2 separate regions of the Homo sapiens genome follow, and region 1 is linked to region 2. The links come from fine-mapping of genetic effects on gene expression. Tissue or cell type: whole blood. Region 2 holds a variant in brackets; the other region holds the start of a gene. All regions are shown on one strand. Distances are from middle to middle. Region 1 holds the start of KRT77 (keratin 77). Region 2 has its middle 20 kb from the start of KRT77.

Region 1 (8,840 bases), 19 kb before region 2:
CCAGGCCACTCACCACTCTTAGCATAGAGGTCCAAGGGTCAGCTGATCAAGGCCAGGCCAGTGTCCCAGGGGTAAGAGCTGAAACCCTCCTTTCCTTTCTGAGGCCCTGTCCCCTTGTCATTGGTTCTAGAAAGCCTTTGGCTCCATTTCCACTCTCTGAGCGTCCAGCACTGACCCCTGAGGGGCTGACCCAATTTGTCATCCGGTTTCTATTTATTGAGCAATTCTCATATGTCAGGCACTATTCTGGGTGCTAGGGATTTGGTAATAAAAAAAACAGGCAAAATCCCTGCTTTCCAGGAGTTTGCATTCTATTTAGAGAGATTACTATAAAGAAATAATCATGTAAAAAATACAGTGCCTCAGATGGCTGCAGGGACTATGGAGTCACACAGGGCCGGGGCATAGGAACACTGAAGTGGTGGTCAGGGAAGGCCCCACTGAAACTGTGGCATCTGAGCAAAGACCCACAGAAGGTGAGGGAGGAAGGTGGGCCTCTCTCTCGGGGGAAGAGTTCCATGCAGAGGGAATGGTAGGTGCAAAGACCTTGAGACAGAACTGAGCCTTGGATGCTGGTGAGCAAGAAGAGAGCAGGAGAGGAGGCAGAGGGGCACAGGAGGCTGCAGACAACAATGAGTTGGAAGCCTGGGGGCTGTTTTCCAGGCCTCACTCTGCTTACTAGCCATTGTATCCCGAAAGCTGTTCCACCCAGTGAGGGCAACGTGGCCTGATTCCACAAATGCAAGTGTGGGCTTAGCAGCAGCTGCGGGTTGAAGGGCAAGTAATATAGGGCCTTGTAGGACTTGGGCTTTTCTTTCAGTCGAGACAAGAAGCCACTGGAGGATTCAAATGGAGGAGTGTCGTGACATGCTTTTAAAGGATGGCTCTGCTGTGGTGTCAAGTATAGGCTATACAGGGTCAAGGGTGAAAGCAGGAAGACCAGTTTGGAAAGCAGAGTCAGAAGTCACCTGTCATAGAAGCCTTCTTCCTTCCAGCCAGGCCACAGCCCACCTGGCTGAGAAGCCTCTCCTCATAGTCATCATAGGCCATGCCCTTCGAAGGACAGGAGGCCCAGGTCTCTTGCACCCTAGCCTCTGCCCACTGCCCTATGCCATGCAACTGGACAGACCCTGTTCATGGCAGGGGCCATAATCAGATGAGCCTCAGGAGGTCAGTTGCCAGCGGCCTGTGGTCATTTCCCAGCCCTTTCTCCTCCCTGCTCCTCTCTTGGCCCAGCCGTGACCTCCGAGTAGTGACTCCTTGCTCCAGTGAAACCCTCTAACCCCTGCCTTTGCCTGAAGCGTGGTGATACTCAGCCAAATTTCCCACGCAGCATGATCGGAAGCCACGGGAGCACGCTGCTGTGTTGCGCTCCTCTTCGGCAGCCTCTGGGCCTCAGCACTCTCACCCTCCTCCGCCCGCTCACACACTGTCCCATCCCCAGCATCTGCTCAGATATCAGAGGCCTGCCCTGCCACCCAGTATGGCCTCTAGCCACAGCTACCCTGCAGTCAGGCCACAGGTCAAGCTCTGGCCTCAGCACTGAACTCCCGTGGGGACTGAGGGAAAGTCACTGAGTGTGCAAGCGGCCTTGGTGCTCTGTGGGGCTTCCCACTGCATCCCTGAAGGCAAAGTTCCTCCTGGGGAGGTGCTAGTGGCCGCTGTGCCTCGACCTCCAGACAAAAGGAGATGCTGGAGGGAGGTCTTCACCATGGCGAGTTCTCCAGCCTCTGCTGCTGCTTTGGACCTAATCTGAAGTTTCAACAGGGAACTAGGGACAGGGGCTTCTGTGTCTCCATCTGGCCCATCCTTGGCCCTTGATGAGCCAAAAGGGGAAACTCAGACAGAACCCTACATTGCATGCTATTGACTTTAGCCCCAAGAGATACCCACCACCAGGGCATTCACCATGCCCTGCCTGCTTCTCCTGCCCTGGCTCTGTGGCTTCATCTCCACTTCTCTCCTCCACCCCTTGGTATCCCATTTTCTCCAGGAATTGTAACTGTTTGAAATTCCCTAAACGCGTCACGCTTTCATGCCTCCTGGTCCTTCTGCCTGAAAATCCCCTCTGCCCTGAGAACCCATTTAACTCGTGCTCACTTCGGCAGCACATATACTAAAATTAGAACCCATTTAACTTTTCATCCGCCTTCCAGACTCAGCAAGCAGAGCTCATGACACCCTCCTTTGAGCTACCATGGCCCAGAGAGTACTACCCCTATTGACACACTTCACATACACTGTAGTAATTCTCTCCCCTTTAGACGTGGGCTCCTTGATGGCAGGACCTGTGTCCTAGTCACCTGTAGCACCTGGCACGATGTCTGGCCTATCATAGATTCTTAGAAAATATTTGTGGGCTAGATGGGTGGATGGATGCATGAGTGGATAGTTGAATGGATTGATGGATGAGTGAATGAACAGATGAACACGTGTGTGTGTGTGCATGTGTGTGTGTGTGTGTATAAATGGATTGTGTGGATGGGTGGGTGGATGGATGGATGGACGGAAGGGTGGATAGTTGGGTGGATTGATGAATAAGTGAATGGATGGATGTGTGTGTGTGTGTGTGTGTGTGTGTTTGTGTGTGTGTGTATAAATGGATTGTGTGGATGGGGATGGATAGATGGGTGCATGGGTGGATGGGTGGATGGAAAGTGAATAATTATGAATGAGAATGAGGGTACTACACCATGTATCTGTTGAGTATTTTAACACTGCTTATCTCCTTTCCTGCCAAAAGGAAAAGATGGAATTAAATCCCTGCAAGAAGACAAATTGAAGCCCAAATGGGTAAATGATTTTCTAAGGTCCCAGGTCAAGCTGAAACAGCACGATGTGGTGAGAGGTGGTAAGGTGTAATCTCTCTCAGTCATTTGGTCAGTGACCAATGACCCTCCCTGCCCCTGAGGTGCTCACCTTGTCAATGAAGGAGGCAAACTTGTTGTTGAGAACCATAATCTGCTCCCGCTCCTGGGTCTTGATCCTCTGAATTTCAGGGTCCACCTCCAGGTGAAGTGGCTCTAGGAGGCTCTGGTTAATGGTCACCTCTTGGATGCCCCCAGGAGGACAATAAGGACCAAAGCCCCCAAGCCCAAAATTGCTAGTCCCAAATCCAGCACCCCCAAAACCACCTCCTCCAAAGCCACCAGCCCCGGTGCTGCCAACCCCAAAGCCTCTGCCCCCTCCAAATCCCCCTACTCCCCCACCCTGGCAGAAACCACTGGTGCTCCTCCCCATTAGATTAATGGAGATGCTTCTACTGCCACCCAGATTGTAGAGGCTCCTAGAGCCAAACCCCCTTCCATGGATCCCATATCCACCACCACCACACCTCCCTCGAGCATAACACACAGAACCCACTGCCGGACTCCCACCACCAGAGCCTGCAGAAGAGCTGGTACTATAAACCCGCCTGCTCATTGAACTAAACGCGGACTGAGAACTAAATTGGTGGCTCATGTTTGCTGGAGCATCCAGAGAAGCAGGCAAGAGAAAGAGCCTGGCAGGAAGGAGGCAGAGACCAGAGAGGAAAGGAGCTCTGACTCCTTTGAAAAGATCTGGCTCCGGCTCTATATATATACACACACACACACATTACTGGGCTGGGCACCTTTACAATCCTGAAAGGGGAGTATTAATGTTTAGTTTGCCTGCCAGCAACATCTGTTTAAAACCTCACACCTGTGAGTTGCAGAAATCAGATTGCAGACAAACTTCCCCAACTCGATCATTTATCATTCATCTCTTGCCATTTAGAGATCAGAATGCAAGAATCTCTCAGGATCTCATTGCTGGAAACTTCTATACAGATTCTCCCCAAATCATCAGTTCATCTCTTCCTAAGAAACTCCACCATCGAGTTGTTTGTTTCTGGGATGTGCCTGGGAGATCTGGGGCAAAGTTAGATGGTGTTTAGAGACCTCAGGACCATAGCTGGGACAGAGGTGGAAACACTTTCTGTCACAGCATCGTCCTGGTGGGGCAAAAGTTTTGTTCCAATCTCCCCACACACTGCTTCTGCTCCCTGCAGTTATCATCACCATGAGCACCCAAAATTTTATCACATGGAAGTGCAATATTGTGGTCACTGAGTACAAGTGGAGGCCCACAGATTCTGCCCAAGGTCATTCACATTGTGTGCTGCTTGATAAGCCTCAGACTTCTCAAACACAAAACCACACAAGGTACTTCAGCACCAAAAGTCTGTGGTTATAGATTTGTTGAGCATCTACCAGTACCTAATATTGTCTTCTAGACCAGAAGACAAACCATCCCTAACTATCTCTCTTTCTGTTTTATCATTTCCGGTTCTTTATAGACAATACTTTTGTAAAATAGAATTAAAGGAATTACCTCCTAAAGATAATTTTTTAAAAAAGATATACAAAATGCAAGCCCAAATTTTTTTTATTTTTAGATTCAGCAAACAAAACATTGTTTAACTGCTAAAAATAGCAACAATAATAATAATTTTCTAAATGGTTACTCTCAAATTCTGTGCTTACCACAAGGCAATAGCAAAGCACGGTAGACCAGCACTAATCTGTGCTCACCCTCTGAGAAGCACGTCCCAGACAGCATCCTGGGGAAAAGCTCATTCAGTGAGCATCAGTGTCCGCCAACAAAAAAATGTGCGTTTTCCCTCTGGACTCAAATAGCTGTGGCTTTCATCCAAAATGTAATAATAATTTTTTTAACTTGGGGAAAAACTCTCCAGCCTTAGAAAAATGGCTAAGCGATGGCTTGCCCAATTGGATACAATTATTTTAAATCATCTTGTTGGAGACTCTGCAGCAGAACCGGCAACCACTTGTGATACTATGTACCATATTAAAGGGAAAGGGCAGACTACATGATGGAGTCTGCGCTGTGAACTCATAAGAATTAAGAATGCAGAAGGCCGGGTGCAATAGCTCACTCCTGTAATCCCAGCACTGTGGGAGGCCAAGGCAAGCAGATCACTTGAGCCCAGGAGTTCAAAACCAGCCTGGCCAATATGGCGAAACCCCATCTCTACTGAAAATACAAAAAATTAACCAGGTGTGGTAGCACACTCCTGTAGTCCCAGCTCCCACGGGTCAGGGGGGCTGAGGTAGGAGGATCACTTGAGCCTGGGAGGTCAAGGCTGCAGTGAGCCCTTATCGTGCCACTGCACTCCAGCCTGGGCAAGAGAATGAGACCCTCTCTCAAAAAAAAAAAAAAAAATGCAGATAAGACAGACTTTGTGAGTAACTAGAAAGTGAGTTGATTTATTTAGAGACTGTGGGAGGAGTTTTCCTAGGTTCTTTTGTTTGTTTGCTTATTTTTTTGAGACAGAGTCTTGCACTGTTGCCCTGGCTGGAGTGCAGTGGCACAATCTTGGCTCGCTGCAACCTCTGCCTCCTGGGTTCAAGCGATTCTCCTGTCTCAGCCTCCTGAGTAACTGGGATTGCAGGTGCCTACCACCACGCCTGGCTAATTTTTTGTATTTTTAATAAAGACAGGGTTTCACCATATTGGCCAGCCTGGTCTAGAACTCCTGACCTCAGGTGATCCACCTGCCTCAGCCTCCCAAAGTGCTGGGATTACAGGCGTGAGCTACTGTGCCCGGCTGAATTTTCCTGGTGTTTTAAATGTCCTTTTTCTTTATGTTCATTGCAATAAATATTTTTTGCTCACGCCTTTAATCCCAGCACTTTTGGAAGCCAAGGCAGGCGGATCACCTGAGGTTAGGAGTTCGAGACCAGCCTGACCAACATGGAGAATGCCATCTCTACTAAAAATACAAAAAATTAGCCGGGCATGGTGGCACATCTGTAATCCCAGCCACTTGGGAGGCTGAGGCAGTAGAATCACTTGAACCCAAGAGGCAGAGGTTGTGGTGAGCCGAGATTGCACCATTGCACTCTAGCCTGGGCAACAAGAGTGAAACTCCACCTCAAAAAAAAAAAGAAAGTTGTGGCAGAAATCCCAATAGAGGTGGGGAAGAACAGGTGGTAGAAACAAGAGCACTGTGGGGGCGCCGCAGTGAAAAGTCATCCTGGTACAGGGAAATGCTCCAAGGGCAATTCCAAGCTTCCACACCCTCTTCTCATGAACCTCTGCATTCCGTACATGGTATCTGTTCAGTGGGTCATCCAGGAGACACTGTGTGATAGAGGAGACAATGAGCCTGAAATTTATAGGCAGAAGCTCTGCTGCTTGCTGGTTGTGTCTAGAGCCTCAGACACTTAAGGAACCTAGAGCCTCTCAGACACTTAAGGAACCAAAGTGTCTATTTCTCAAGGATTCAAAGCTATATATAAGTCATGTGGGGAGAAAAAAGCAGAGCACTGGAATCACTAAACAAGCAGAAATAGCTGCTCACAGATCCTGGTGGGATGACAGCTGTCCTGCTTTGCCTAGGATTTTCAGTACTTAAACCAAGATATACCTGGGCAAATCAGAACAGTTGGTCACCCTAGTCCTAGGCACCTATGGTCCACACAGCCATACTCCTAACCCTAAGGTAAGAGAGGGAAGCCAGGGCCTAGCCTCCAGCACAGAGTGACAAGGAGAGAACCAGTAGAAGCAGAGGAAGGAAAGAGAGGTGAAGCTAGGGAAAGGGGTGGGTTCATGTGAGAAAGCTGCCTGAAGACCAGGATTCTGAGTCAGATATCAGAGGAGAGGCAGAAAGAACAGAGCAGGGGGAAGAAGTAGGGGTCTGGCTGAGAAAATGGGGGCTGATAGGAGAAGGGACAGTAAGTACCAGACAGGAAACAGCAGTGGTGTGGCGAACAGATCCTTGAGTTGGGCATCTTGAAACCCAGCTCTGACTCCTGGCTCCGCCCCCTCCTAGCCCCATGGCTGGGACACTTGACTCCTTGAACCTCAGTTTCCTGACCTCTAAAATAAAGAAAATAGTAACCAGGCGGGCACAGTGGCTCACACCTGTAATCCCAGCACTTTTGGAGGCAGAGGTGGGTGGCTCACCTGAGGTCAGGAGTTTTGAGACCAGCCTGGCCAACATAGTGAAACCTCGTCTCTACTAAAAACACAAAAATATATAATCCCAGCTACTTCGGAGGCTGAGGCAGGAGAATCGCTTGAACCTGGGAGGTAGGGGTTGCAGTGAGCCGAGATGGCGCCACTGTGCTCCAGCCTGGGCAACAGAGGGAGACTCTGTCTCAAAATATATATATATATAAAATAACAGCTTTGTAGAGTGATAGTAATGAATGGCTATGAACAAATATGGAAGAGCACTTTGCAAGCCCCAAGGAGTCACACAAGTGAGGTTCTGTTCCCCAACCCCTCCCTGTGAACCCACCTCTCTCTCCGGCTGCACCACTCACTTTCAACCCCACCTCCTCCTCATGAAGAATACACATAATTAACCCCTTCGCATCTGTCTCTACTGCCACCTAAACAAACAGGAAGCTCCTTGCTGTTGGGACAAGACTTCATGGACCAGGAGCCCCTTTCTTCCTGCAACTGCTGGGCAGAGTGGGCCAATAACAAAGGCCTTCATGACTGAGCTAAAGTAAAGAGACGTGGACAGCTTAGAGAACCAAGAGCTTGGGCCCCACAATTAAGTGCCCCTGGAGTTAAAGCCCAGCTCCCCCCATGTACCAGTTTTATGATTGAACTAATCACTGAGTTCCCTGAACGCTATTCATCTGACCCTTAAATAGAGCACTTGAAGACAACAAATATTTTAAAAGGCTTGCTCTTACGAGAGGTGTTATTGTGTGGCTGTGGCTACAGCATTGAGACCTATGAATGCGATGAGAGTTTTTAGAAAGACAGGCAGCTGGAAAAGGCTTCACAGAAGCAAAGGCAAGCTCAAGCTAACCTCGAAGGATGTACTGTAGGCCAGTGAGAGGGTGCTCTGTTGTAGGGACTGGGACTGGGAAGGACCAGAGAAACTGCTCGTGCCAAGGCCTAGAGAAAGGAACGGGCATGTGAGGGGGTGGGATGGGGGAGCCATGAAGAGGCCCCCTTGCCTCGAGGGAGCAACTGGGAAACCCTGAGGCCTGAGTTTGGCTTCGGTCACAGAGGGCTCCAGCAATGTCTTTGAGTGGAATTTGTTCAGCACTCGCCCAGGTTTCTATATACTGTCATGCTGAATGTGAAAATATTCCATTGTGATAACATAAAAAAGGAAGTCCCGGACAGCAGAGTTTAGGAAGCTTCTTTGATCTCTGTCTATGATCAGCTTTCAGCATTCAATGCCAACATTGTCATCTACCTCCCGTCAGCTGATGGCCCCTGCTGGGCTGTTGTCATCCCTTGAAGGGCTTGGGAGGGGAGGAGGGACACACCCACTAACTGAGCTTTTGGTGGAGGGTGATAGCTATGCTCTACTTCCTCAGAAGAAAAAAAAATGACTTAAAGTGAAGCACGAGAGATTTTGCTTGTCTCAAAGGAAGTGTTTCAACTCAGATCAATATTAGTGGGTAAATAATGTTCCTAGGACGAATCACTACCCCTAAAAGAAACTCCTCAGCTGGTTAGACTGCAGAGAGCAGCGGTTTCTAAACTGGCTCACACTGGAATCACCTAGAAAGCTTCAAAATCGCTGGTGCCTGGGCCCACACCTAAGGAGTAGAGTTTAATTGGTCTGGGGCTATGGTCTGGACTTTAGAATTTTTAAAAGGTGGTTTTAATGTGCAGCAAGTTTGGAGACCACTGACCTGGAGGAAACAGGACAAATGAAACAGCCTCTTTAGATTCCATTCAGTCTAAGGACACAGATAGGAGTAACAATCATTATCATAATAGTGAACTTCACCAGGTGATTTCCATGGACCATGCACTGTGCTGTCTATAACATGGAAGGTCTCGTGAAATCTAAATACCAACATCATAAGGAAGAT
Region 2 (8,840 bases):
TCAGTCATCCCCATGGACCCAGAGCACATCCCATGAATCACATGGATTCAGGGCTTCTTGTCCCACCAGTTTAGCCCAAGGCCTGCATCTTTCCAATGTATGGCCTTCTGGGTTCAGGTAAGACCCAGTTCATTCTACAGACATTTACTAGCACTTAATATGTGCCAGGCACCACTTAATAATGATGATGATGATAATTGGACAGTGAAGTAGATACCCCTTCCTTATACTATTCTGATTGATCCTAGAAGGCTTTCTGGAGAAATTTTGATTTTTTTCAACTATTTATGGGACCAGAGGGAGATGGCTGAGCTGCCAAGAGCTTTCAGGGGAATTTTCTGGTGCCAACTCTGTGTACAGCAAGTACAGTAGCACCATGGGCTCTCCATAGGTACTTAGTGAGTATTCTACAGCAGATGCAGTCTCCAGAAAGATGTTTACAATCCTGGGTACACTGCACTCAGGCGGGAATTAGAGAAAACCACAGAGAAATGTCTCTCAAGCTGACCTTTTCCCAAGAAGGATCCTAGATGCAACTGAGCCCTGCATTTAAACTTAACCACTGGCTAAAGATGTCTCAAACTTTTATTTGCTATGAGACATTTCTGCACAAAATTCAAGGCTAGCCATATAAGCAGGGGAGTAACTATCAATCAACTGGTCATTCAACAAACATTTGCAGAGCACCAAGCAAGTGTCAGGCCTTATACTAGACACTCAGGATTCCAAGATCTCAGAAGGCCCCTTTGAGGATGATAAGGGCTACTGCTGAGACCTTGGGCAGCCAAACCCACTTGCTGTGGCGCAGCTGCATTTTCAGCATCACTTTCTGTTTTTCTGTAAACAAATTTTTTTTGAGACAGGTTCTCACTCTGTTGCCCAGGCTGGAGTGCAGTGGCGTGATCTTGGCTCACTGCAACCTCTGCCTCTTGGGCTCAGGCGATTCTCCCTCCTCAGCCCCCCAAGTAGCTAAGACTACAGGTGTGCACCACCATGCCTGGCTAATTTTTGTATTTTTTGTAGAGACAGGGTCTCACTATGTTGCCCAGGCTGGTCTCAAACTCCTGGACTCAAGTAGTCCACCTGCCTCAGACTCCCAGAGTGCTAGGATTACGGGCGTGAACTAACGCACCCGGCCTCTGTAAATAAATTCATCCAGACACCCAGATGTCTGCCAGGAACCAGCTAGGTACCTCTAGAAGGTCACTTAACTTTCAAGAGCTTCACCTCTAAAAAGGTGTGATGTTCCAATGTTAAGACTAACTTCTTCATCTTTGCCCAGGACACATATGAAAATGGGACCCCGCAAAGAATCACTACAAGCCCTTTCTGTGAGGCCTACTATTACCCCAGGGTCACAAAGAGATCTCCACACATTGTGCCCCAAGAGTACTGATGACACTCTCAGCAGCTAACCAAGCCCAGACACCACACAGTCACCACTGTCATTGCCATGGTTTCCCTTGCATGGAATGTCCAGAACGCAGACACCCCCATAAACCATTCATTCAGCCAGGCCCTTGCACGTATACGTGCAAACAAGCCTCACATGCCGTCAACATTTGCAGTTCCTCACACTAAAATCATCCTATGAGAAGCACCTAGGAGGAGGTGCCCCTTAACCCTCATCTCACGTCACAAAGCTGATGGCAGGTTGACTCATCCCTCAAATACAAATTCAGCTTGGGCAGAGTCATCCTCTCTTTCAAAGACGAGCAGCTTGCAAATCCTCTGAGATGGAGGGGGAGTTCTGCGTTTGGGTTTCAGAAGGCAATGGTTAGGAGACATCAATGATGGCAGCCAGCAGTCCCCAGAGCAGCAGCCTCAGCAGCCCCTCTGAGGAGACGAGGGACGGGGCACACAGAGGGATGGCACCTCCATCCAGGGAGGGGCTACAGCGTTTTCCTCACCTGTTGCTGCTGTAAGCAGGCCCACTACTGCTGAGATACCACAGAGGGCTTGACATATTGGGTGAACCCACAACTCCTTCCTCAGACTCATAAGGAGAAGAGGGAAAAAAAAGACCAACACAACTGAGCCAGATTTCCTCACTGTCTAGCTGGCTTGAGATGGGCTCACCTGTCGATGAAGGAGGCAAACGTTGTTGAGGGTCTTGATCTGCTCCCGCTTCTGGGCCTTTACTTGCCCAAACTTAAGGTCAGTCTCCTGGAGGGGCTGAAGAAGGCTCTGGTTGACAGTCACTTCCTGGATTCCACCCAGGAAGCCACCCAGATCACTGAGGTCACGGAGGCCACCAAAGCCACCAGGACCACCAAAGCTTCCAGAACCACCAAAGCCACCAGCTCCTCTGCAGAAACCCCTGGCTCCTCCTCTGAAGCCTCCAATTCCTCCGCCAAAGCCCCCAGCTCTTCCACCAAAGCTTCCACCCATCCCTCTTCCACCACCTCCAAAACCACTGCCTCCAAAACATCCCCCACCAGGCCCCCCGAACCCACCAGCCCCGCTGAACCCACTAGCCCAGGTGCCACCTCCAGCCACACTGATAGGGATCGTCTTCTTCCCCCCAAGGCCATGGAGACTCTGGCTGCAGAAACCTCCCCCCATCATGGCACAGGCAGCAGACCCACCCACCACCAGCCCTTCCTGAGCTGGAGGCAAAGGAGGACATGATGGAGCTGATCCAGCTGTGGCCTGACACCACTGCTAAGTGGCTGCTGAAGGTCTGGCAGTAGGCCCCACCAGAAGACCTGCAGGGCTGCTGGCTGTAGCTTATCTGGCGACTCATGGCAGACAGCAAGGTCTTCCAAAGGAAGGGTGGGCTCAGAAGGCTGGAGGAAACTCAGAAGCCTTCTGAAGTTCTGGGATGGGGATGGCCCTTATGTAGAGCCTGGGAGCTTGGCTGGCTGATGGTGCCAGCCACCTAACTGAGGTATTAGCAGCTTTGGTTTGCCTGGCAGCAAGAGGTCGAGTTCAAAATATGCAACACACCTTGATAATCCCTCCAAATTTCCAAATTACTTTGTTTTCCCAGGGTTACTTCCCTGAAATAACCTTAAATTGGGAGAGGAACAATCCTGTAGGGCTGGACACAACCCTTAATCCCCAAGAGATCTATGACCCCATGCTGAGAGTGACAGGTCAGCACTTCTCTGCCCCTCAGCCACTCAGCCAGACCAGCCAGCCTCAGGAGGTTCCCAGGATGGGTGCACAGCCCCAGTGGGGGCAGGACCCCAGGCAAGGACTCCAAGGAAGAAAGGAGAGGACGGGGGAGGGCTGTGAAGGTGACGTTGTGGCTGACAAGGAGAAGGAAGTTGCAACAGAAGTTCAAGAATGCACAGCAGCTGCCTCTAGGACCTCATCCTTCAGGGAGGAGGTGCACATATGAATGCACAAAGAGCAAGTTCTCAGCCACAGGGACACCTAGAACTGGGTTCTAAGGGGCCTTGGAGGGAGAGCTGCAGGGGAGGAGAGAGGAATCAGTCTGACAAGGACAGGAATGAGCATGGCTGGAGAAGAAGTCAAGGTCACTGCCAAGTGCCCTAGGAGAGGGTGAGCAGAGAGAGGGGCTGAGGCCAGCCTGGGCAGGGTAGAGAGAATGGACCACTTGGGCCAGGCCAGAAAAACCATCAGCTTTTCCTCTTCCAAACTTGTACAACAAAAATGAATCCAGGATTCCCAAGACCCTCTTCCTTCAGTTCACGTGAGACACCACCCCCACCACCTAGGAAGCTCAGATCCTCACCAGTAAAATTTCAGAATAACAAGGGCTTCTTCTTAAGTCTGTTAGGGGCATAATATTTGGAAGAAGTTCTGTGTGACATGAAATGTTACTCACTTTTGTAACATTTACCTCTACTTACCTTTGGCAGCAAAGACTACCTTTGATGACACCAATCCTGACAGCACAAACCAAGGCTGGAAATGAGCCTCTGCAAAGGCCAGCCCCTTTTAAAATGACCTTTGCCTTTTCCTCTTCTAATCTAACCTCCAATTCCCTCTGATCCGTGCTCATCCAAGAACCCTTCTCTCATTGATCTCACCTTCTCCCCTTTGCTCAGACCTGACTTCCTAGCCACTCAGCACCTCCTTCTTCCCTTGCCAGCTCACTGGAGGGAGGGCCAGTTCAAACCAGTGACCTGCCAAACCTCAGGGAAGCCCCTATTCCTCTCCATCAAGTCACGAAAGACCCTCAAGTAAAGTGGAAGAGAATGAACTCGGTGGAGAGAGAGAGAAGCAAAACACACCATAAATTCACACCAACACACACACACACACACACACACACACACACAAACAGACATCACAGAACCACAGGCATGCCCACAAGGATGGACACGCTCATCACAAATCCCTGCCCAGGGCACTCTTCCCCATGCAGCCCTTCGTGCCACAGGTAGACATCGTCCTCACCACCTTCAAAACCTTGGTGCCTACCCCATCCCCCAGGGCCCTGATTCTTGCTCAAAGCTCCTTGCTGACCTAAGAAACCAAGATATGGCAGCTGGATCCAAATAGGGGCACAGACTGAGAGGAGACCCAGGTCCCAACTCAACTCAGCCACTGAGTCTTCCCCTTGCCAGGCCTCAGTTTCCTCCTCTGCACAATGAGGGCTTCAGACTTGAGTAGAGGATTCACGTTGGACCTACTGAAGCCCCAGGGTTCAAATGAGGTATGAGTGGGAGAAAGGGATGCAGTGGGCAGTGTTCTGGTCTCATCACCACTGCCACCCTGACACCTCCATGCTGATCTCTGAAATGAAAGACTCTGCTGTTTAAAAACAATTTGGAAACTCCTGGGCCCATTGCCCTC[T/C]GGATCACTTCCCGTGCTGATGGTGGGGCTCAGCAACATAACATAAAACCGCTGTCTTTGCTCACATATGGGGCGGATCCTGACTCCAAAATCCAAGTCATGTTTTGGTTTCCAAGTGTGGCCTATGCTTTTGTCAAGAGAGGCCCCAGGAGCAAATGAGAAAAGGTGTCCCACCATCCTCCTGTCCCCCACTTGCCATTTGTAAATCCTTGCTATTGAAGGGGAACTCTGCAGAACAATTCACTGGTTTCCACCCCTTGGCCACTGCCAATGACCTGGCCCAGTCTGAATACGCAAAGAAGTCAGTTTGCATTTTAACATCAAGAACAAATCCCAAAGAGATTAGGGTGGAAGTTGGGGCTCTAATGAGGACCCATCCCAAATCCCTTCATTAGCAGTGGCAAATCCCACCAATCCCCCACACCTGCAAACTAGAAAAGTCCAGCTATTCTCCTCTGTTGCCTCTTCAAAAAAATTAGAGTGCACTGCTAGCCAGGGAGTCGCCAACCCTAGAATTAAACCATACGGGCCTTTCCTGGGGATGAGGGCACAGAGGCCCCAGGAGAGACACTGAGCCCTGCCCTCCCTCCTCTCCGTGGCCATGGCTATGCCTCCCAGGCTGGCACCTGACCGAGGCCCCTCTGCTCTGGGGCAGCAGTGCCCTCACCAGTGGAGTCCAAGGGCAGAGGAACAACCGCATCTGCCATTGTTCCTGCCATGAGGCAGTCCCAGCTTCTCAGGGAAATGGGGCCCTCAAATGCAGCACCCAGGGCTGAGGCCAGAGCTTGACAGTACATGGCATGGCAGTTGGCAGATGATGCTGGGCCAGGGAGGGCAAGTGGGGAGAGCAGAGTTGGGACAGAGTTGTGTGTGTGGGAGGCTTCAAGGGGAGCACATGGATGGGGCCCTGGGGCAGATTGGGCATGAGCCAGGAGGAGTTCAGCTCTGGTTCCCTGGGCAGACTGTCCCACTCTGTGCCCTGCAGTCAAAGGGGAATCTGTTCCATAAGAAATTGTTGGTTTTGTTTTGTTTTGTTTAAATGGAGTCTCACTCTATCACCCCGGCTAGAGTGCAGTGGTGTGATCTCCGCTCACTACAACCTCTGCCTCCTGGGTTCAATTGATTCTCTTGCCTAGGCCTCCCAAGTAGCTGGGACTACAGGCAGCCACCACCATGCCTGGCTAATTTTTGTAATTTTGTAGAGATGGGATTTCGCCATATTGGCCAGGCTAGTCTCAAACTCCTGACCTCGGTTATCCACCTGCCTTGGCCTCCCAAAGCGCTGGGATTAGAGGTGTGAACCACCGGGCCTGGCCAGAAACTGTTCTTCAATACCAGGTGACCTCTGAGCTGAGTCTCATTGAAGAGGGCCAGCCTCATGGCATCTGAAACTTAGGAAAAAAGGTCTTGGGCCAGGCAGCTGCAGCTCGAAACTTGGCCCAGCCCAGAAGGAGAAGGCCCAGGGAGTGAGGCAGCCTCTTCAATGTGCGCAGACCTACCTACCCCAGGAGGCGGGCAGAACAATGCCATGGAAAGCACCCTGGATAAAGGCAAGAGCCCCAAGTTCCAGTCTCCAGGCTCCTCTGGGCCTCCTTTTAGCCCATTGTAAAGTAGAGCTGATAAACCTCTTCTCTGCCTGTTGAGCCTCTACTCCTGAGCCCATCAAGGGCCAGGTGAGTGAAGTACAAAAAGGGCCTTATAAACTAGAAAGCAGGAGCGCCTTGGGAACTGAGGGATCACAGCGGCAGCAGGGAGTCAGGCCGTAGAATGCTAGCCAGGTAGCAGGCTCTAAATTGACACTTATAGACTTTTTCAACCTTCATGGCAACCCTCTAGCTCTTTTTTTACAGATGAGGGAAACTGAGGCTAAGGAGTTAAACAACTTTTCCAGGGGCCCACAGCCAATAAGTGGCAGAGCCAAGCCTCCAGTTCAGTTTCTGTCCCAGCCTGGAGCACATGCTACGGACTGAGGCATATACGACTCAGAGCTCTGGAAAGGCTCCTTGTGCAGGCACTGGCAGGATGTTCTGTGTCTGTCCCTTCCTTCTGTGTCTGTAAGTTCTCAGCTTACAGAACAAGCCCTGACTCTGAGCAATTGACCTGTATTTGATCATGTTTGCAAAGTGGTGTGGAATTGATAGAAAAGGCACAAACAGGACTCCGTGCTTCTCTAAGCATAGTCCTTAGAAGGGCACTTTGCATGGTTTTCCCAGCAAAGGGGATGGTTTGTGCTGCCCCAGCTTGCTCCTTCCTCAGCAGGATCAAGGGTGTGATTATGCAAGCTGATGGGCCAGGAGAGGGCCACAGTCTAGACCTAAAACCATTTCCCTTCCACCCTAAGCCAACTCATTTAGGAACCAGCCAAAGTCCCAGCCCCAACACGATGCCTCATATGACCAGCCTGGCCCCCTGAGCTCTCCTGGCCTCAAGCTCCTGGGACACTCATTGTCCCTATGGTGTCTATAAGTCAAAGAAAAATATCCTTACTTCTCAACCAGTGTAGAAGCCATGGGAGGGCAGGCCCCATACCCGGCACATACACCCACCCAGCTCCCAGCCAAACTTATACAATTCAGAAAGTTCTTGGTTCCTAAAAAAGCCAAGCCATAGCCTCACACGTGTACATGACACTTAATAGTATCTGGCATTTGTGGAGTGTCTTGAACTTGTTAAAGTCCTTTCATTTATCTACCCTGACAGACCAATGGGCAAACATGCCACACACAGACACACACCCTCTGTGACTCACAGACAAAATACTTTCATACAACCTGTAGCCCCAAATGAAAATGACAAAAGCATTAAGCATGAAGTAGGTTTAAAACTGATGCAGTCAGAAAGTAGAAGCCATCTCAACCCAACCACTGGCTCTGGTTTCTGCCAAGAAGCATGAAAATTGGAGCAGGGATCTAGAGTCAGGCATAATGGGTGCTCCTGCGTTCTGTTCAGAGAATCCAAGAAGGAGTGTCCAGAAGGGTTTCCCCTAGAACTTCATTCCCTCTAAGAGATGCAACATTGACCAGTATCCATTTAGTCATCTCTCCAAACATTTATTCAATCACTCAGCAATGATTCGTGGAGCACTTGCTTGTGTCAGCAGAAGGCTTCCCAGTAGAAGACAATGACACACAAAATACAGTTCATGGTCTGGGGGAGCCTACAGTTTTGTTGAAGGAAGTACCAGGCATGTAAATAACACCTTAGAGCACATTGGAGTCAGCGTTATTGACAGTAGATCAAAGTACTAAGGTGTGAGAGGAAGAAAGGCTATTGAAGGCATCATAGAGGAGGTAATTTTGAGTAGCGTACTGAGGGAGGGGTCGGAGTGGGCCCAGTGGGTGGACAATTCAAAAAAGACACCACTGGTAGAGAGAGGGAAATCTAATGTGGTGGGGGAAGTATTGGTAAGGCATCCCACATGTTCAGTATAGGCGTCATAATGGAGGAGGAGAGATGATGGGGAAGGAGCTGAAGGTGTAGGTTGAAACTGATTGCATTGGTCTCTTTGTGCTATGCTGCAGATTTGGGACTTTGCTCTGTGGGCAGCTACACATCAGGACCACTGGGCAGCTTTTAAAAATCCAGATCCTGAAGCCCTACTTCTGGTCTCCTGAATCAGAATCAGGGAGCATGGCCCGGGCACCTGGATTTTTTTAAAGCTCCAGTTTGCTTTAATTCTGATGGACTAATTCCCAGAATGTAAGCAATTTTACTAAAGGAGAAAATGTCCCCATTTTTATAAAAGGCTAGGGGAAGGGTAAGAGAGAGTCACTTGTCTTCACACAGGACATAGAGTTGGATCTAGTCCAAGGGCTGAGCCAAGCACTCAGCTCTAGATACAGGTACAAATGCTGCTGATTGGGAAGCGCCACTTACCAATCAGCAGGGACTCCAAGGGGCAGGCACCTTTGGAGCACATCATTAAGAACATGAAAAGGCAGGGAGAGGTGGGAGGGATAGCATTAGGAGATATACCTAATGTTAAATAACGAGTTAATGGGTGCAGCACGCCAACATGGCACATGTATATATATGTAACTAACCTGCACGTTGTGCACATGTACCCTAAA

What was found. PIP is the estimated chance that this variant, and not a neighbour inherited with it, causes the effect.
Region 1: KRT77 starts here. The variant in region 2 is fine-mapped to the expression of KRT77 in whole blood (INTERVAL, PIP above 0.99).

Annotation. Positions count from the first base shown.
Region 1 is chr12:52,699,973-52,708,812 of GRCh38, forward strand. KRT77 (keratin 77) reads right to left here and starts at 3,552. Exons shown (of 9, transcript NM_175078.3): 1 at 2,920-3,552. The coding sequence starts at 3,462. RefSeq lists an enhancer at 1,625-1,794.
Region 2 is chr12:52,719,065-52,727,904 of GRCh38, forward strand. It overlaps the pseudogene KRT126P. Among named protein-coding and RNA genes, the nearest start is that of KRT77, 20 kb to the left of the region's middle. The variant T/C (reference allele first, on the strand shown) is at 4,771.